Linked DNA regions of Homo sapiens. The protein of the gene in region 2 interacts with the protein of the main gene of each other region in a pairwise test. Each region holds a gene or a part of one and is shown on either strand. Other genes may lie near its edges.

Evidence for each region. The genes of interacting proteins can lie anywhere in the genome.
Region 1: the proteins of KLC3 (region 2) and MBIP interact in binary tests that used the Homo sapiens proteins (3 or more experiments, as listed by UniProt).
Region 3: the proteins of KLC3 (region 2) and PEX26 interact in binary tests that used the Homo sapiens proteins (3 or more experiments, as listed by UniProt).

What each region holds. Positions count from the first base shown.
Region 1 is NC_000014.9:36,297,605-36,304,573, reverse strand, and holds the end of MBIP (MAP3K12-binding inhibitory protein 1), read left to right. Parts: intron 1-3,750; coding exon 3,751-3,789; intron 3,790-5,383; coding exon 5,384-5,491; 3' UTR 5,492-6,010; downstream 6,011-6,969. UniProt on the Homo sapiens protein: Inhibits the MAP3K12 activity to induce the activation of the JNK/SAPK pathway. Component of the ATAC complex, a complex with histone acetyltransferase activity on histones H3 and H4.
Region 2 is NC_000019.10:45,335,716-45,344,405, reverse strand, and holds the start of KLC3 (kinesin light chain 3), read right to left. Parts: upstream 3,657-8,690; 5' UTR 3,560-3,656; intron 1-3,559. UniProt on the Homo sapiens protein: Kinesin is a microtubule-associated force-producing protein that may play a role in organelle transport. Plays a role during spermiogenesis in the development of the sperm tail midpiece and in the normal function of spermatozoa.
Region 3 is NC_000022.11:18,101,054-18,106,355, reverse strand, and holds the end of PEX26 (peroxisome assembly protein 26), read right to left. Parts: 3' UTR 960-5,302; downstream 1-959. UniProt on the Homo sapiens protein: Peroxisomal docking factor that anchors PEX1 and PEX6 to peroxisome membranes. PEX26 is therefore required for the formation of the PEX1-PEX6 AAA ATPase complex, a complex that mediates the extraction of the PEX5 receptor from peroxisomal membrane.

The DNA.
Region 1 (6,969 bases), on a different chromosome or scaffold from region 2:
TTAAGGGCATGGCCTTAACAGTCCATTTAAAAGAACGATCTTAGAGTATTTCCAAAGACTTACTGATTTTAAATTATGATACTTGAAAACAGTAAGTACCAACATGCTTTTACAAGTATATTGTTTAGTTTATAGCATTTATCACTCATATGTTTATACATGTTTTTCACTTTATATTTTGAAACTCTCAAGGGCAGGAACTATGTCTTGTTCATCTTTGAGACACAGAATGTAGTCAATATCGAGTAGATGTGCAAATGAATGGATAGGACTTGGCTGATAGCTCATTATTGGACTTTGAAGGTGTGTTAACTTTGTTCAAAGCACTGACTGAGAGTAATTTTTAGTCTGTAACAGTAACTCCTGGTTCTTAAGGGAAGTATCGGGGGAGGGGAATGCTGAAAATCAGGTCAACATCATGTACACAGGCCATGTGCGTGTGAACGTGTGGTGGGTCTGAAGCATGAGTGAACAACTGGATTCAGCTAGAAAATTAGATTGTAAACATATTTCAGAGGGCCTTGAAGGTCACACTAACCAGTTTGCACTTCTAGTATCATTGGAGCACAATTAAGTTTTAGAGAAAGAGAGAAACTTGTAATTTAGGTCCCTGTCTGGTGGCATTATGAAGTCTGAGTTGGAGAGAAATTGGAGTCAAGGAAACTAGTTTAGGAAACATGTCATTATCCAAGCCAGAGAGAAATGAAGGTCTGAATCAGGGCTCTGGGACTAGAAGGGAAGAAAAACATTTTAGATACTGCACGCATAGAATCAGTTGCCTTTTACAACTGAAAGAAAGCAAGCCAGTCATGGAAGAGGCCTCCTTACCCTTGAGTTTCCTTAGAGCACTGGTTCCCTGGATTCATATGTGTGTGTGCATGTGCGTGAACGTGTGTATGACAGTCATGCTCTGCATAAGGATGTTTCAGTCAACAGTCAACTGCATATATTACAGTGATCCCATAAAATTATAGTATGGTATTTTTACTGTATCTTTTCTATGTTGAGACGTGTTTAGATACACATATACCATTGTGTTACACTTGCCTACAGTATTCAATACAGAAACATGCCATAAGGTTTATATGCTAGGAGCAATAGACTATACCATATAGCCTAGGTGTGTACCATCTAGGTTTCTATAAGTATACTCTATGATGTTCACACAATGACAAAATTAACACATTTCTCAGAATATATCCCCATCATTAAGCGGTGCATGACTAGGAACCTGGTAAGGTAAAATAATGGGTGAGGAGAGACAATTTTGCATTACCTTTCTCCAGCTCTTTCTTTAGTGTGCTGTGCTCTCAAGTATTTTCTCTCAGGTACCAAAACCTGTTAAAATGTCCACCTTTTATACTTCTATACAGATGGGGTTATGTCCCAATAAACCCATCAAAAACTGAAAATATTATTAAGTCTAAAATGCATTCAACACCTCTAACCTACCAAACATCATAGCTTAGCCTAGCCTAAAACATGTTCAGAATGTGTACACTGGCCTATCATGTACAGTTGAGGAAAGTCCCTTGGCAGCACAGTACACTGTAGAGTATCGGGTGTTTACCCTCATACCCCATGGCTGACTGGGAGCTTTGCTCACTGCCACTGCCCAGCATCACAAGAGAGCATCGTATCACATGTCACTAGCCCAGGAAAAGATCAAAATTCAGCATTTGAAGTACAGTTTCTACTGAATGTCTGTCACTTTCACAGCATTGTAAATTTGAAAAACCTTATCTAGCCATCATAAGTCAGGAACTGTACTGAGATTTCCTTATACCTAAAACAAACAGTAAAGTTAATCTAGTGTATCCACGGTAGATATGGTATTTCTAAGTGTTCTTTTTATCAAAATATTCTGCTCAGAGCTAAAACAAGTCCAAAAGGCCACATTTTACTGTTTTTAAGTCACTGAGCGACTGATGACCTTATTTTCCTCATTCTAATATTTCTTGCTTTGGTTCTATGATACAGTAGTAATCTGATTGTTTAATAGCATGGAAACTATCAATATATTACAGGTTAAACGATTAGGAGAACAAGGGGAATTTTTTTTTTTTTTTTTTTTTTTTTTTTAAGATGGTGTCTTGCTCTGTCGCCCAGGCTGGAGTGCAGTGGTGCAGTCTCGGCTCACTGCAACCTCCGCCTCCCGGGTTCATGCCATTCTCCTGCCTCAGCCTCCCAAGTAGCTGGGACTGCAGGCACCTGCCACCACACCCGGCTAGTTGTTTGTGTTTTTAGTAGAGACTGGGTTTCACCATGTTAGCCAGGATGGCCTTGATCTCCTGACCTCTTGATCCACCCGCCTCGGCCTCCCAAAGTGCTGGGATTACAGGCATGAGCCACCACGCCTGGCCAAGGGCAATTATATTTGCATCAAGTGTATAAAAAGCCACCTCTTAGGAAGTTAGGAGACTGATCAATCGCCAAATTAAACATTGATTCCTTATTTGCCCATAGGCCCTACCACAGGTATCCAGCTTGGTTTGGCAAAGGAAGGAGCATAATTATCTGAGCTCTATTATTTCTTAATTACTAATTCTAATACTTAATGATTTCCCATTTATTGTAACTTGATAAGCATACCTAGATGTTCTTTGAATCAACTTTTGACACAAAGGAAAATGTGAGTTTTAATGCTGTCTTTAAAATCTCAGTAGTCAGAAATGCTCATGAGAACATTTTGTCTTGGACATTCACAGTTTCTTTGTCAAATATACTCATTTACTAATTTGCCATTCAAAAGCTAGTGCTTGTGTGAAACTAAGAAAAAGTCTAGAAAGAATTCATTAGGCCAAAGTTTAAAAGGCTCATTAGTGGATCAGTGAGAATGTTGTTAGCTTCAACTAAGAAATTTGAACTCAAAACTGGCTTAAACATTATGTAAATTATAAAATAGGAAGTCCATGGTAGCACAAGCTTCAGATTTAATTGATTCAGTGGCTAAATCATAATTGTGAGAAAACAGGTTTCTTTCCCCTCTTAACTCTGCTTGGTGTTAACTTCTTTCCCAGGCAGATGGCAAGATGGCTACAGCACTTTCAGGTGTCTTACCCAATACGGCAGTATCCTGAGGAACTGCCTTCTTTAAGGGCTTTCTCTCAAAAGATGTGAGGAAGCTTTTTCCAGAAGCTCTCCTCTTAATCTCCAGCAGACCTCTCCTTTACTCATTGGCCAGAACTGGACCCATGCCCATTTCAGTCACTGACAAGACCGGGAAGCCATTGGCTTGGGCCACACAGAGAAGTAGTGGATAGGTAGCTGCTTGCATAAACAACCACAGTGTCTACTATAGTCAGTCCAGGGTGTGTGTATGTGTGTTTTCACCCCTTGGCCTCATATACCAGATTCCGTTTTTCCTTTGTCTGTTGTCACTTCACTTGTTCAATACCCTAGGATGGAAAGGTTATGAAAAAAAACTAAGCAGAAAATCCCCAGAGCACCTCTTTCCGAAATCACTCAGGCTCATTAGCAGCGGGTAGTTGATGGGAAAATATGTATTGCCAAGGATGAGCATGTTGCTGCAATATTACTATTATATATTGTTAACGTCATCCTCTTTAGAGGGTAACTTGCAGAATATAAGGTAGATGTTGGTTACAGACAGTAATTGGTATTGGTAAATTGGTTGGTTTTTTTTCTGTCAGGGTTCCCAAGGCTGTACATAATTTGTACAGTATTTTATAAAGAAAAAAAAATGATGCTTAGATTTTTCTAAACATTACCTTTTTTTTTTTAATCTAGAGCTTTTCTGGAAAAAGAAGAAAAGTTCAACCACCTCAAGTAAGTTACTGCATTTTCATTTTGGTTTCTGAAATAGTTTGATTAGTTTTATACCTTTCTTATTAATAAAAGTTTCTACTATGGTTGCTTTTAGGTCATACCCTGGTAAAATTTAGGACTGAAGAAAAGGGCAGTATAAACTAATACAGTTGAATAGAAAAATTATTTTAAGGGCATGGAATGACTCAGATAGGTTAAATAAATAAAACCTTTGTCCTGCTTTTAGTAGTACAAGGATGTGTCATTCACAAAGTGCTTAAAAATAGTAAGTGCTCAAGTAATTTCAGTCTCCCCCCATCCCTTCCTTTTGTGAACACTTCTAATTAGCAGCACCTAGATCAAAAAGGGTGTTTGGCAGAGTTTGACTTCAGCCAGCCCTGTCTAAAGTGCTACTTTACTAATTAGTTGAACCTTAAATAGTAAGGCTTTGCTAGAATTTAACAGTGGTAATGTGAATTTAAAGTTGGAGAAAACTTTCTGATTTTTAAGAGTAGCATATTTTTTTCTTGTAAAATTCTGAGTAAGTTTTTTGATAGCAGCTATTTTTTCCCGAAGTAAATTATTATAGTTGATCCCTCAAGAGAGAATTTCTAAGTATTTTAAGCAGCTATTTTTAAAGTTAACTAACTTTTTTTACTATTGATTATGAGAATAATCAGGTTTTTAAAAGTTATTCTCTTATGTAGTAAACTGTAACACTTCGTTGCTGCTTTAAAAATACAATTCACATAACATAAAATTCATCATTTTAAAGTGGCTATTAGTATATTCACTATGTTGTGCAACCATCACCACTAAGTCTAGAACATTTCCATCACTGCCCCCCCAAAACCCTGTATCTATTAGCACTCAGTCCCAATTTCCCCTTCTCTTTACCCCCTAATAGCCACTACATAATACTTGTGTCTAAATTAGAAATATTAATATATAAGTGAGGGTGTTCACATAGGTAGACTTGAATAAATCCAATTTTTATTGGAAGGTAAAAGAAGTATTTTCTTCACTATTTTCCACTTCAGGTTAACTTTAGTAATCAACATAGAAAGTTTTCCATTAAAAGGGATAGTTGATGTCTCAAATGATTTTTTTCTCCTGGTAGTAGTATAATTAGCATTTTTCTTCTTCTTTCCAACTTTTACTTAAGCTCAAGGGTTTTTCAGCTTTGTTACATGGGTAAATTGCATGTCATGGGGGTTTGGTGTACAGATAATTTTGTCACCCAGGCAATCAGCATAATACCCAATAGGCAGTTTTTCAGTCCTCTCCCTCCTCCCATCTTCAAATAGGCTCCAGTGTCTAATAATCAGGCTTTTTTTTTTTTTTTAACTTATTCTTTCTAAGTATAAAAGGTTCAGGAGAGCTTAGTCATTAGAAAAGAGAAAAAGAAATATTTAAGCCTTGTTATTTTATGCCTTTAAATTTATGATATAGTCAACATATATAGTTGCTCAGTTTTAAGATTATTCTCATGAGGGAAAAAAACCATTTGATCATGCTTTTGAATATTTTAAATATTTATAGTTCATTTGGCACTTTATCTGCATTAAGATACTTCAGAATCTTATTCAGCAATTTGTGTCGTTATTGTTTACAGCAGAACTATTCACTGGCTGAACTTGATGAGAAAATTAGTGCCCTCAAACAAGCCCTCCTCAGAAAATCAAGAGAAGCAGAATCCATGGCAACCCACCACCTTCCATGAAAAACTCCTCTCATCCTTGTCATTTTACTTTTTTGTATACATATGTGTAACTTACACTGTTATTAATTCAACGGATATATATTTATCAATGTAGACTTCTCTGTGAAGTCAAGGTTTATTTTCACATGAGTCCAGCTTGCAGCAAGTAATCTTCAAATATTCCAGTAAGTTTTGAAATAATGAATGCATTGAAAATAGCATTGTTGGAATTTATTCCCTTCTGTTTTAAAGGAGGTATTTTGGAAATTGAAAAACTTAATTTACAAGTGCTGGTACATCTTTTTTCTTTTGTGGACCACAGGAAGGAAGATTTATTTTGATATTGATACTTTAAAAGGACTTTATATTTGTAACATTGATGTTAACCAGTTTATTAGTTTAAATCAGTACTTTGCATATAATAAGCATTCAACAAAAATTTATTGACTGAAATGAATTTTAAATGCATGTGTATGAACTTGTTTTTCTTAATCTTTAAGATGTCAGTATTCATGTAAATAAACAATAGATCCAGCTTTATCCCTTTGACGGTGTGACTTTGATCAATTTACTTAATCTGTCTTTGTTCTTATTTCCCAGTCTGTGAAATGGGAATGACAATAGTAGAGACTACCTTATTGATTGTTACGAAGAAGAGGTGAGATCTTGCATGTTTGAAACTGTCTGTCCCAAGGGAATTGCTCAGTAGATGTTAGCTAATATTATAAAACCAGGTCTGTTTTTGGACAGCAATTAGGATATTACAAAGAAATTATAGTACCTCTCTTTTGAGAGCCTCCCCTTTACAATACCCCAGTTACATTAGGCAGTACATACATTACCACAGTTATAAATTAAACATTTGAAAGATGCAGCTACAGTTATGTGGAAATTCTTTCATGGAGCAGTTGTTCAGGTCAATAATTGTTTGGTGGTTCACTCCTGTAATCTCAGCACTTTGGGAGGCTGAGGTAGGAGGATCACTTGACCCCAGAAGGTCAAGGCTGCAGTGATGCACTGTATTCCAGCCTGGGTGACAGAGTGAGACACTGTCTTAAAAAACAAACAAAAAAGGTTTGGTTGCAAGAATCAGAAATCTACCAAATAGCTTGGAAAAGAGTTGTTGCTAAAAAGGAGCAGAAATCTGGAACTTTATTGCAGGAAGTACAGTGAAACACTGTAGGATCTAGAAAGTCGCCAGCAATTAATCTCTTTCTGTGTCTCTGACTGCCTCTCATTCTTTGTCTCTGTCCTCTACTCACCTTGTTTTCTGCTCTCCCTCTCCTTTTGTCTCTGTTACTCTGCCTTTGTTTTTTAAATCTTACACATAGTCATCTATGTACCTACTATATTATCTTTCTGTGGACTGGTTTCTCTGAAGACCTTTTTATCTCTGCTTCCCCACATGGAGTGACATGTTAGTCCTGTCTTCATTAGTCCTGTCTTCAGAGCCTCGGCTTGTTGTGTTTGAGCTGCTATGGTGCAAACTCTGAACTCAG
Region 2 (8,690 bases):
CTCTACTGGAAAAAAAAAAAAAAAAATAGCAGAGCATGGTGGCGCATGCCTGTAGTCCCAGCTACTTGGGAGGCTGAGGCAGGAGAATTGCTTGAACCCGGGAGGCGGAGGTTGCAGTGAGCCAAGGTCGCACCACTGCAATCCAGCCTGGGCAACAGAGTGAGACTTCATTTAAAAAAAAAAAAAAAAAAGACGGTACACACACACACCCTCCCAGAAATACAGTTACACACACACACACACACACACACTCCCTCATTAGAAACACAATGTAGGCCGGGTGCGGTGGCTCACACCTGTACTCCGAGCACTTTGGGATTTTGGCTGAGGCAGGAGGATCACTTGAGCCCAGGAGTTCAAGACCAGCCTGGGAAACATAGTGAGACCCCATCCCTACAAAAATAAAAATAAAAAAATTAGCTGGGTGTGGTGATGGTGTACCTGGAGGCTGAGGTAGAAGGATTGCTTGAACCCAGGAGGTTGAAGCTGCAGTGAGCCATGATAGTGCCACTGCACTCAGCCTGGGTGAAAGAGTAAGACCCAGTCAAAAAAGAAAGAAAGAAAGGACAGCATAATATACATTCTCCTCTTAGAACACGCACTCACTTTCTCCTATTAAATATACAACTCAGTAAAAACATTTACATTTTCCTTTTAGAAATACAACCTAAGACAACACACTGACTCAGGCACACACATATACTATTCTTTCAAAAACAATCTGTATACACTCCCAACACACAGGTATATTCTCTTAGAAATAAAAACCAAGCCTGGGCGCGGTGGCTCACGCCTGTAATCCCAGCACTTTGGGAGGCCGAGGTGGGTGGATCAGTTGAGGTCAGGAGTTTGAGACTGGCCTGGCCAACATGGTGAAACCCCGGCTCTACTAAAAATACAAAATTAGCCAGGCATGGTGGTATGCGCCTGTAGTCCCCAGCTACTCATGAGGCTGAGGCATGAGAATTGCTTGAACCTGAGAGGCGGAGGTTGCAGTGAGCCAAGATCACGCCACCACACTCCAGCCTGGGTGACAAGAGCAAAACTCCGTGTCAAAAAGTGATAATATTATTTAAAAAAAAGAAAGAAAAGCCAACCCACGCAGAAACTAACTCTGTCTCTCCCACTCCCCAAATCACTCACATTCAGACCATCTCCTTGCACTTGACCGTGACACTCGCTGTCCCCCGAACTCACATGGCTCCCAAGCAGCCAACTCCCCACAATGTGCCCAACGCACCTCCAGATGCACACACTCCCAAGATTCACTATGGATCCCTCGCCAGTTTCCCTACTTCCTCTCCCTCCCACTCCAGGCCTGGCCAGCAGGGACTCCCACACCTACACGCCATGCACACACAAGTACTCAGATTCAGCTCCACTGTCGGAACAGAGAGCTGTGAATACGCGTGGAGGGATGCCACGTTCTCGCACACTTCACTCAAGCCACTGCATCCACCATAAGCAGCCCAGCGGTTTTTGCACATGTTGTACATGCACGATCACATACAGTAAGGGTCCTGTACGTTTTGTGCACCACAGACTTGATCGTCATTGATCTCTCCCTCTCTCTAGATATATGTATGTGTATATATGTGATGTATATATCAACCTTTAAAAAATTTAATTTTATTTTTTTGAGACTGAGTCTCGCTCTGTTGCCCAGACTGGAGTGCAATGGCATGATGTTGGCTCACTGCGATCTCCACCTCCCCAGGTTCAAGCGATTCTCCTCCCTCACCCTCCCAAGTAGCTGGAATTACAGGTGCCCGCCACCACACCTGGCTAATTTTTGTATTTTTAGTACAGACGGGGTTTCACCATGTTGGCCGGGCTGGTCTCAAACTCCTGACCTCAAATGATCCACCCGCTCCCCCCTTGGCCTCCCAAAGTGCTGGGATTACAGGCGTGAGCTACCGCGCCCAGCCAACCTTTTTTTAATTTTTAAAAAACTAAACTATGCCCAGCTAATTTTTGTTTTTGTAGAGACGGGGTATCACCATATTGCCCAGGCTAGTCTAGGATTCCTGGGTTCAAGCAATCCCCGCCGCCTCAGCCTCCCAAAGTGTTGAGATTACAGGTATGAGCCACTGCACCCGGCCAATCTGTGTGCTTGTGTATATCACACCATACCTATTCTCACACCTCACACACAAACATCATAAATGGTTGAACTCACAACCACACAGGTTCAAGAGTCATCCTGACAACCACAACCATTCTTCACACAATTTTGCCGATGTAAAACCTCCCTCTATAACCTCAGACACAGCCTTACACACACCACTCCACAGCCAGATTGACAACCACAGCAACAAACACGGCTCAACCACAGCCATCCAGCACTCGGGCTGTGTCCCAGACACACAGCAGCTCCCACACTCACACAGAGCCCCGGGTGCACAACCGCACAGCTGATAATCATAGGCACAGTCCCACACACTGATCCCTGACGCGGACCCCCTTTTCCATCCTGTCACCCGCTTGGAGGAGCATCCCACTTAAATGTCCACGTCTCCACTCCCATCTCCCACAAACTCTCCGTTGCACACCACTGCCAGCCACGGTATCAATGCAGATCACACACCCTCTAGTTCCTCTCTACACACACACACACACACACACACACGCACACACGGCTTCACACACCTCCACACCTCACTCATCCAACCCCAAGGTTCCACGCGCACCGTCCCATGAAACAGCTCCACTTCTGGACACAGTTCCGCCCAGCCCCATGCACCATCACAGTGACACACAATCAAAAGTCAATCATAGTCACCTATCACTGATCCAGTGCCACACTGTCCACCACACGCGCGCGCGCACACACACACACACACACACACACCAACAGGCAGAAAGACAACCACAGCCGCACAGCCTCTTGGTCAATCACACCTAATCCTACAACCAGTTCCACTCTCTGCCATGAAGACAGCCACACACACAGCCACACACATGCACATCAGGCCAAGCAGAAAGTCGACTACAGTCGCACTAGCTCTTGGTCGTAAAGTGCTACCAGCAATCCAATTCTACACACACACCATTCCAGTCAGAGGTCGCCCACGTTTTCACATTGCTAAAAGTGTCACATCATACACACAGTCCCATCACAGGGTTACACGGACAGTCGCTTTCACCCTCATACCCACAGCCTGACACACTCTCTTACACACACGCAAAGCCACACACACACACACACACACACACACAAACACAGGCAGGCAGGAGACTCCCATCGTGGCCCAGCCCCGCAAGCCGCACCAACTTACCCTGGCCTGCCCAGCCCCGCGCACCAGGCTCACCCGCAGTCACAAGGGCCCCCTCCCTCTCCCTCCCAGGCCCCGCCCCGTCCTCGCTGTTTACCTGCGCTGGGGTGGGGGGCATGGGACCCCAGCCAGGCCTCCAGATCCCGGAGAGCCCCAGGACGGGGCAGGGGGCATCCGGGAGCCCCAAGGCCCTTCCCCGTCTCAGGGCGAGCGGGCCCAGGGTTGCCCCCGCCCCCCATCATCGCGGCTCTCCGAGAGTCCCGCGCCCCACTCCCGGCACCCACCTGACCGCGGGCGGCTCCGGCCCCGCTTCGCCCCACTGCGATCAGTCGCGTCCCGCAGGCCAGGCACGCCCCGCCGCTCCCGCTGCGCCGGGCGTCTGGGACCTCGGGCGGCTCCTCCGAGGGGCGGGGCAGCCGGGAGCCACGCCCCCGCAGGTGAGCCGGCCACGCCCACCGCCCGTGGGAAGTTCAGCCTCGGGGCTCCAGCCCCGCGGGAATGGCAGAACTTCGCACGCGGAACTGGTAACCTCCAGGACACCTCGAATCAGGGTGATTGTAGCGCAGGGGCCTTGGCCAAGCTAAAACTTTGGAAACTTTAGATCCCAGACAGGTGGCTTTCTTGCAGTGCCTGCCCCAGAGCCTTTTCCTTGGTTGTGTGGCCTGCTTCGATCTCTCTTCCCACAGATCTCATCGTCTTTAGGTCTCTTCTCAAAGGCCACCTCCTCCGGCAGGCCTTCCCTGATTGCCCCCTTCTAAATGGCACCCTTCCACCAAAACATTACATACTCCTCTTGATTTTGTTCACAAAACTTTTCAGGGCCTAAAATTACCTTATTTATTTATTGAGAGGGAGTCTCGCTCCGTCACCCAGGCTGGAGTGCAGTAGCGCGATCTCGGCTCACTGCAACCTCCACCTCCCAAGTTCAAGCGATTCTCCCATCTCAGTCTCCCGAGTAGCTGCGACTACAAGTGTCTGCCACCACGCCCGGCTACTTTTTATATTTCTAGTAGAGACGGGGTTTCGCCATGTCGGCCAGGCTGGTCTCAAACTCCTGACCTCAAGTGATCCTCCCGCCTCGGCCTCCCAAAGTTCTGGGATTACAGGAGTGAGCCACCGCCCCCGGCCCCTAAAGTTATTTTATATAACATATATCACATCATTATGTTATGTTATATATTATGTTATTGGCAAGGGAATGTGATATCTAAGAATTGGGCTCAGGGTTCAAATTTGATTCCGGCACTTACTTGCTGTGCAGGCCTTGGGCAAGTAACTTAACCTCTCTGTGCCTCAGTTTCCCTAGTCAATAAAATATAAATAGTCTAAGGCTTTGAGAATTGAATGTTAACTAATACAGGGACAGTACTTTTTTTTTTTTTTTTTTTTTTTTGAGACACAGTCTCGCTGTGTTACCCAGGCTGGAGTACAATGGCGCTATCTTATCTTGGCTCACTGCAACTCCTGGGTTCAAGTCATTCTCCTGTCTCAGCCTCCCGAGTAGCTGGGATTACAGGCGCCCGCCACCATGCCCAGCTAATTTTTCCATTTTTAGTAGAGACGGGGTTTCCCCATGTTAGCCAGGCTGATCTCGAACTCCTGACCTTAGGTGATCTGCCCACCTCGACCTCCCAAAGTGCTGGAATTACAGGCGTGAGCCACCGCGCCTGGCCAGGACAGTACTTTTATCAGGGCCTCGCAAATAGAAAGTACTTAGTAAATACTCGCTACTGACTGTATATTATGGGTTCACTTTTTCTCCTCTACTATATAAGCTCTGAGGGCAGGGCTGTATATTGTCAGCACTGTTATCTTCAGCAAGAGCTTGATGCAAAGTCGGTGCTCAATAAATTGTGACTGAATGAAGGAATCAAGTCCTAGAATAGTAAGCTGGCCAAAGCTGGGAGGACACGATTCTAATATAACTTGAGGACGGCGCAGTGGCTCACACCTGTAATCCCAGCACTTTGGGAGGCCGAGGGGGCTGGATCACTTGAGGTCAGGAGTTCGAGACCAGCCTGGCCAACATGGTGAAACCCTATCTCTACTAAAAATACAAAATTAGCCGGGTGTGGTAGCGCACGCCTGTAATCCCAGCTACTTGGGAGGCTGAGGCAGGCGAATCGCTTGAACCCCAGAGGCAGAGGTTGCAGTGAGCCGAGATCACACCATTACACTCCTGCCTGGGCAACAAGAGCGAAACTCCATCTCAAAAATAAATAAATGCATACATACATACATGGCTCAATGCGCGCGGTACCCCGGTCACTACACTATGAAATGCTTCCAGCAGAGGGCGCTGCTGGTCCGTGGACCAAACTCCAGACTCGGCACAGCTCCGCGCTCCCTCCGAATTGCAGCCAACGTGCCCTCTACTTCCCTGTTGTCTGAGCCCCAGTGCTGATGCTTCCTCCTCCAGGAAGCCCTTTCTTATTTCCCAGGTTTCCAGGCTCTTGGGCTCCCACATCCAGCCCTGCCAACTCTGGGTCATCAGTGTGGGGAGACAGGTCAGTCCCATATTAGACTATGAGCCCCAAGAAGGGAGGAGGCGGCCAGGGGCCATGTCAGTCTCCACTGTGTCCCCAGTGCCACCTAGCACAGGCCCAACGCAGAGAAGGCATTTGGGAGAATAGGTGCTGATTGAATCATGGAAATAAAAATTCAAACTCATATCCTAACTACTCCAGCATTTTTTTTTTTTTAAGACAGTCTTGCTCTGTTGCCCAGGCTGGAGTGCAGTGGCACGATCTTGGCTCATTGTGTAACCTCCGCTTCCCAGGTTCAAGCGATTCTCCCGCCCCAGCCTCCCAAGCAGCTGGGATTACAGGCACCCACCATCATGCCTTGCTAATTTTTATATTTTTGTAGAAATGGAGTTTCCCATGTTGGCCAGGCTGGTCTTGAACTCTTGACCTCAGGTGATCCACCCACTTCGGCCTCCCAGAGTGCTGGGATTATAGGCGTCAGCCACCATGCCCGGCCTACTCTAGCTTTTTTAAAAGACAGGTGTCACTCTGTCACCCAGGCTGGAGTGCAGTGGCAGTCGTAACTCACTGCAGCCTTGATTTCCCGGGTTTAAGCAATGCTCCCTCCTCAGCCTCCCAAGTCCCAGGTAGCTGGGACTACAAATGCACCACCATACCCAGCTACTTTTTGTTGTTTTTTGTAAAGATGGGGGTCTCCCTATATTGCCCAGGCTGGTTTTGAACTCCTGACCTCAAGCGATCCTCCTGCCTTGGCCTCCCAAAGTCCTGGGATTACAGGCATGAGCCACTGTGCCAAGCTCCAGCTATTTCTTTCTTTCTTCCTTTTTTTAATTAAGACAGCATCTCACTGGGAGTGGTGGCTCATGCCTATAATCCCAGCACTTTGGGAGGCCTAGGAGGGCGGATCACCTGAGATCAGGAGGGCGGATCACCTGAGATCAGGAGGGCGAGACCAGCCTGACCAATATGATGAAACCGTGTCTCTACTAAAATTACAAAAATTAGCCGGGCTTGGTGGCATGGGCCTGTAATTCCAGCTTGTCAGGAGGCTAAGACAGGAGAATCACTTGAACCAGGGAGGCGGAGGTTGCAGTGAGCCAAGATGGCGTCATTGCACTCCAGCCTGGGCAACAAGAGCAAAACTCCATCCCCTAAAAAAAAAAAAAAAAAGACAGTGTCTCTGTTGCCCAGGCTGGAGTGCAATGGCATGATCTCGGCTCACTGAAACCTCCATCTCCCGGGTTCAAATGATTCTCCTGCCTCAGCCTCCAGAGTAGCTGGGATTACAGGTGTGCACCATCACGCCCAGGTAATTTTTATATTTTTAGTATAGACAGGGTTTCGCCATGTTGGCCAGGCTGGTCTCGAACTCCTGACCTCAGGTGATCTACCCGCCTCGGCCTTCCAAAGTGCTAGCTCCAGCTATTTCAACAGCACAGGATCGAGGGGCAGCAGAGCCTTCCCCCTGCCCCCCATTTTTTTGGCCTCACGACGCTGGACATTGGATCTGGATCTGCTACACGCTTACCACAGGCAGTGCAGGGACTGGAGCCAGGCCAGCAGGGACAAATCTCAGCTGGGTCATTTGCTAGCTGTGTGACCCTCTGAGCCAAGAAGTAACCTCTCTGGACCTCAGATTTCTAGTCTGTCAAACGAGACTCACAGGGTACCCTACTTTAAGGCTGTGGTGAGGATTACTGTATAATCCCCCAGAAAAGGCTTAGAACAGGGTAGCACCCGGTAAATACTATGTGTGTTGGGGGAGGGCAGGGGATGGAGCCGGGCGGGGAGCCAGGCAGATCTAGGTTTAAATCCTGGCCCTGCCATTTCTGTTCCATGTAAACCGGGGGAACAATGATCTCTGGCTGAGCCTCTGTCTCCTCGTCTAGTAAAATGGGGATGATCACACTCATCACACAGCATTGAGGTGAGACTTAAATGAGATAAAGATTGAAAGAAGAAGAAAGTGTTAACTAAGGAAAACCTTTCTTGCTTTTGTTGCTGCTGTTGTTGTTTTTGTTTTTTTGAGACGGAGTCATGCTCTTTCTCCCCGGCTGGAGTGCAGTGGCACAATCTCGGCTCACTACAACTTCCGCCTCCCAGGTTCATACAATTCTCCTGCCTCAGCCTCCGGAGTAGCTGGGACTATAGGCACGTACCGCCATGCCCAGCTAATTTTTGTATTTTTAGTAGAGACGGGGTTTCACCGTGTTAGCCAGAATGGTCTTGATCTCCTGACCTCGTGATCTGCCTGCCTCGGCCTCCCAAAGTGCTGGGATTACAGGCGTGAGCCACCACACCTGGCCAGGAAAACCTTCCTTTAGGCCAGCGGTGTTCCAAGTACTTTTGCACAACGCCAACAATGGCTGATGTTTGAGTTCTTACCCCAGACTGGCCCTGTGCCAACTCCTATATACAAATTGTTAATCTTCACACCAGCTGCGATGATTCGCTCCATTCCACAGGTGAAAAAGATGAGGCACAGAGAGGCTGAGTAACTTGTCTTAGGTCACACAGCCAAGGAGTAGCAGAGCCCCAGAATCTTTGTAGCTGACCCCCCAAGGTAGGCACTATTACCAGCCCCACCTAAAAATGAGGAAACTGGCCGGATGTGGTGACTCATACCTGTAATCCCAGGGCTTCAGGAGGATTGCTGGAGCCTAGGAGTTTGAGACCAACTTGGGGAACATAGGATGAACCTATCTCTACAAAAAAAAATTTATTTATTTATTTTTTTTGAGATAGAGTCTTACTCTGTCGCCCAGGCTGGAGTGCAGTGGCGTGATCTTGGCTCACTGTAACCTCCGTGCCCTGGGCTAAAGCAATTCTCCTGCCTCAGCCACCTGAGTAGCTAGGATTACAGGAACCACACCTGGCTAATTTTTTTGTATTTTTAGTAGACATGGGGTTTCACCATGTTGGCCAGGCT
Region 3 (5,302 bases), on a different chromosome or scaffold from region 2:
CTCAGGCTTCAGACTCAGACTGGAACCACGTCTTCAGCTCTCGTGGGTCTCAGGCTTCAGACTCAGACTGGAACCACACCATCAGCTCTCCTGGGTCTCAGGCTTCAGATTCAGACTGGAACCATGTCCTCAGCTCTCCTGGAACTCAGGCTTCAGACTCAGACTGGAACTACGTATTCAGCTCTCCTGGGTCTCAGGCTTCAGACTCAGACTGGAACCACACCATCAGCTCTCCTGGGTCTCAGGCTTCAGACTCAGACTAGAACCATGTCCTTAGCTCTCCTGGATCTCAGGCTTCAGACTCAGACTGGAACCACGTCTTCAGCTCTCCTGGGTCTCAGGCTTCAGACTCAGACTGGGACCACGTCTTCAGCTCTCATGGGTCCCAGGCTTCAGACTCAGACTGGAACTATGTCTTCAGCTCTCCTGGGTCTCAGGCTTCAGACAGACTGGAACCACATCTTCAGCTCTTCTGGGTCTCCAGCATAACCACTGCAGGTCCTGGGTTTCCCAGCCCCTATAATTGCATGAGCCAATTCCTTATAACTCTCAAGATACCACCTATTGGTTCTGTTTCTCTGGAGAACCCTAGTACAGTCCCCTTTTTGTAGATGAGAAACTGAAGTTAAGCCTAGGCTGTTTATGAAAAAACAACCACCCATATGATTTAGGCTTTTTAAAGAAATTATCCACATCTACTGCATTCCAGTTACTATGTGTGAGTGAAGTTCTTCTTGTATGAATTTTAATGCTGTGGGGCCATATAACCAAATATAATTACAGTTATGGCCTAAATAGTTGAGCCACATTCATTAGAGCAGGAGGTAAGATAATTTCTATCAATCACCCAGGAAAAGACTCTTGGCGATATTCATTATCTGTTCAATATTCCCCAACACTGAGCACTTTCTATATGCCAAACACTGTGCTAATGGCTTTTATTCCTCACAACAAACCTCTGAAGTTAAATTTTTATTATCCTCATTTTACAAATGAAGAATCAGAAACATAGAAACATTAACTCTCATTCCTGATCACATAACTGGTAAGAGCTAGAGCTGGGCTATGCTTCAGAGAGTCTGGCTCCAGAGCAGAGCTCAACTGGATCTGGAAGGGCAAACCTTTCATAGAGAGGCTTGTCCTTGTTCTCTTAGGTTAGACTTCAGAGTTCCAATATCCAGGATGCTGCTCCAGGATGGTGGGTGTTACAGATGGAGGTCATGATGTTGAGGGAGGCTGGGAGCCCAGAGGATGAGACACAAGAAAGATCTCTTCATTTCCAGGCACCCCATTGCTGGGGTGAGCCCATGAAGTCCAGAGAGCAAACGATATCTTACCATTAGATTATCTAGATTCAGGTACTTGTCATATGTATTTAACTTTGGTTAGCCCCAAGTACCTTACATACATTCACCCATGTGTCTCAGATGCTGCAGGGGATTAAGGGAAGTTGAGGGTGAACCATTTTGGCCACTGGATCACAAACAAATTGGCTCGCCTTTAAGGTTTACATGGCTGCAGCAGCCGCAATCAAGAGATCACCAAAGAGGAGGTGAATCATGGGACAAATTCCCCTGGGAGGGGTGGAGCTTTAAACCAACATCAGGCAGATGCAAAGAACTCAGCAGAAACAGGAGGCAGTGAGAACAGGAGGCAGTGAGAACAAGAGGCAGTGAGCACTGGGAGCGGGAGTCAGTGACAGACTGTGCAGAGAACACTGAGGCTGGGAACTCAGGAAAACTCACCTCCTGTAAACAGGAGGAAAGGCCAGCCTGTGGCCTCGTGACATCCAAGGCTCTGTCACAGATGGGTAACCACCTTCCTCCGCTACCAGCTCCTAAAAGAACACCTAAAGAGGCGGGTGCGATGGCTCATGCCTGTAATCCCAACGCTTTGGAAGGCTGAGGCAGGTGGACCACCTGAGGTTGGGAGTTCGAGACCAGCCAGACCAACATGGAGAAACCCCGTCTCTACTAAAAATACAAAAATTAGCCAGGCGTGGTGGTGCATGCCTGTAATCCCAGCTACTCAGGAGGCTAAGGCAGGAGAATCGCTTGAACCTGGGAGGTGGAAGTTGTGGTGAGCCGAGATCGCGCCATTGCACTCCAGCATGGGCGACAGAGCGAAAAAAAGAAAAAAAAGAGCACCTAAAGGTCTGTGTGGGATAGACTAGGAAAGATGAAGCCGTCGGTCATCCCCTCCTGCTCTTGGTATTGTGTAGATGATTAACTGTTCCCCTTTCTGGGCATTTTCCTCCTAACCAACACTGAAACAACTGGTTGAATAGTCTCATTTTTTCCAATCACTTCACATATTGCTATGAGTATTGCAAAGTACCCAATCTTTCTGGACCACGTCCTGGCAGTATGTTGGAAGAGCAGAAAAACTGATCTCTATCAATGTTGTAGATCCACTTTCAAAAACCAGCCCAAGAGAAAAACCCAGAAAGAAAACAACTACTATCGTCTTAACTGTTCTACTCAGCCCTTGGTGATTTCACAGCACTTTCATATGCAATCTGTTTACAGCTATGTTATTCACAATAGCAAAAAGTTGGTGGTGGTGCATGTGGGTGTTGACCGGGCTGGGCCAAGAAGCCTCCTCCGGGCAGGCTGCCAGGCTCTCACTGTGGCTGTGGCTCTGTATGGGACAGAGACGGGGCTGAGCTGGCCGGGCTGTGGGCAGGGTGGAGGGCCACCAGCCAAAGGACAGTTGGAGGAATCGAGCTTCATGCTGTCCTTCTCTTCTGCCTCTGATACAGAATTTGATGTTGTGGTTGGATATATAGTACACATTATCATGGATGACATGTTCCGGTTATTATAGAGAAATTTTGTGGACAAGTATTACCAGGAGTTTGAAGACATGGAAGAAAATCAACTCACCTACATGCCTGCTTTTTGATAAATAATATTTGTACATATTATTGAAGTAGATGTGACATTTCATTACATGCATAGAATGTGTAGTGATCAACTCAGGGTATCCAGGATACCCATGACCTTGAGTATTTCTCATTTCTATGTGTTGAGAACATTTCAAATCCTTTATTCCGTCTATTTTGAAACACCCAATACAGTGTTAACAATGGTCACCCTATTCTGCTATCAAGCATTAGAACTCACTCCTTCTATCTATGTTTGTGTCCATCAAGCCACCTCTTCATCCCACATACACACCCTGCCCAGCCTCTAGTAATTGTCATTCTACTCTCTACCTCCATGAGATTAACTTTTACATGCCTTTTTTTTTTTTTTTTTTTTGAGATGCAGTCGCACACTGTCGCCCAGGCTGGAGTGCAATAGCACGATCGCACGATCTCGGCTCACTGCCACCTCTGCCTCCTGGGTTCAAGCAATTCTCCTGCCTCAGCCTCCTGAGTATCTGGGATTACAGGCACACGCCACCATGCCCAGCTAATTTTTTGTATTTTTAGTAGAGATGGGGTTTCACCGTGTTGGCCAGGCTGGTCTCGAACTCCTGACCTCGTGATTCGCCCGCCTCAGCCTCCTAAAGTACTGCGATTACAGGTGTGAGCCACTGCGCCCGGCTACATGCCTATTTTTAATAAATGTATTTACTTGACAGAAAAGTATCCTGAAGGACACCTACTGGAGCGGATTGCTGGATTTAGCACATGGCCTTCACAATATTAGGCATGATAAAGATGAAGGGGCTGGTGCCCTTCATCAGACAGAATTTGATGCTGTGGTTGGATATGTAGCAGACATTACCATGGATGACATGTTCTGGTTATTATAGAGAAATTCTGTGTACAAGTACTACCAGGAGTACTTGGTGCCATAGGCCGGGGACTAGACCTAAGCGATAGTTTAGCGGTGACTTTGTTGAGCAAATCATCTTCTATGCCAGCTTCCCCGAACAAGCTGTGGCACTAGATCCCACCTCCAGGCAAGGAAGAGGATCATCCTGGATGTCACCAGCCCACTGGCTTGGAGAGGCTGCAGCTATTGAGGATAGAACAATACATCTTGGAAAGACTGACTGTTCTGCAACTCATCATTCATGTTAAGTATTAAGGGTCAAAAACAAATGGCTTGATGTGTTTCTCCTGAAACACCTTCTTGTGTTTAGTAACCCTAGTACTCCTCCCATCTCTCAGGTGCTTTTGAATCAGACTGCTGTGGGGCAAACCCATGCCCAGCATTCCACCTGAGGCCCTTCTGCCAGCATACATTCAGTGTGTCAACAGTGTGGAATAACCCACTATCATGAGTCCTCTTTGTCCCAGCAGCTTTGGCATGAACTTTTTTTTCTTTTAAATGAAGAGACGCACATTTTAGTGATTTTCCTTGTGAAATTGCAAAGACTAGAAGAAAGTTAGACACTGACATCTCCATACCTGAATCTCTACCCACTCCATCTCACCCACCACCTGCTTCACAAACTTCCTACTCAACCACCTAAGATGAGACTTCTGGGCAATGTCTCCTCAGCCATCATCTGCCGTGATGTGTCACCCTCAATCATGCCAGGCGTTGTCGAATTCTCCATTCACTGGCTCCTCAATAGCTTTAAAGGCCCCAGACCTCAGGTTAATGACCAAGGAAATTGCACCATCCATCAGAGAGCTGACTTGCCCACATGCAGGATGAGGCCATTGTAATGCCAGGTCTTAAAGGAGAGGGTGATTTCATCACTGCTGCTCTGGATCGGGTTTTGACACAAGTCATTGCACAGCTACTCTGAGCCTTGGAAGGTGGCCACATTCTTTTCTTGATCCTGGGCATTAGGGAAGGGTCCATACAGGTGGTCATACTTAGGCTGTGTCTTGAAGTATGAGTAAGAGATCACTTTCTGCAGCAGTGCTCCAGCCTCCAATGAGGGTGCCACATGCTCCTTCTCCTCGCTACTCCCCACCAAGCAGTTGAGGGAAAAGGGTCAGAGGAAGGTCAAAATCAGCATGAGTCTTTTCCTGCACTGATAGCTCTTTTTCACACAGGTCAGTTTCCAGTCCTTCAACCTCAATGGGGTTTTTGACTGGGACTATTATCTAGGATGTTACTCAAGCCAGCTACCCATCTTGAGGTTTCTGAATCTCCCAGGATCAAAGCTAGTCTTGGCTGTAGGAATCAACTGAAAGAGATGTCCTTTACCTAAAAACTACATGTGAAAATCAATTCCTAGTTCTATATTTGAATCTTTGGGTCAAGAAGTCTTCTGTTGATCCTGATACAGTCCCACTGTTTCTAGAAGTCTCTTTTAAGCATTATTTTTGGAAAAATACTTTTATAGATGAACCCTCAGCCTAACCTAGTGGATATGATGTTGAGAATTCCAT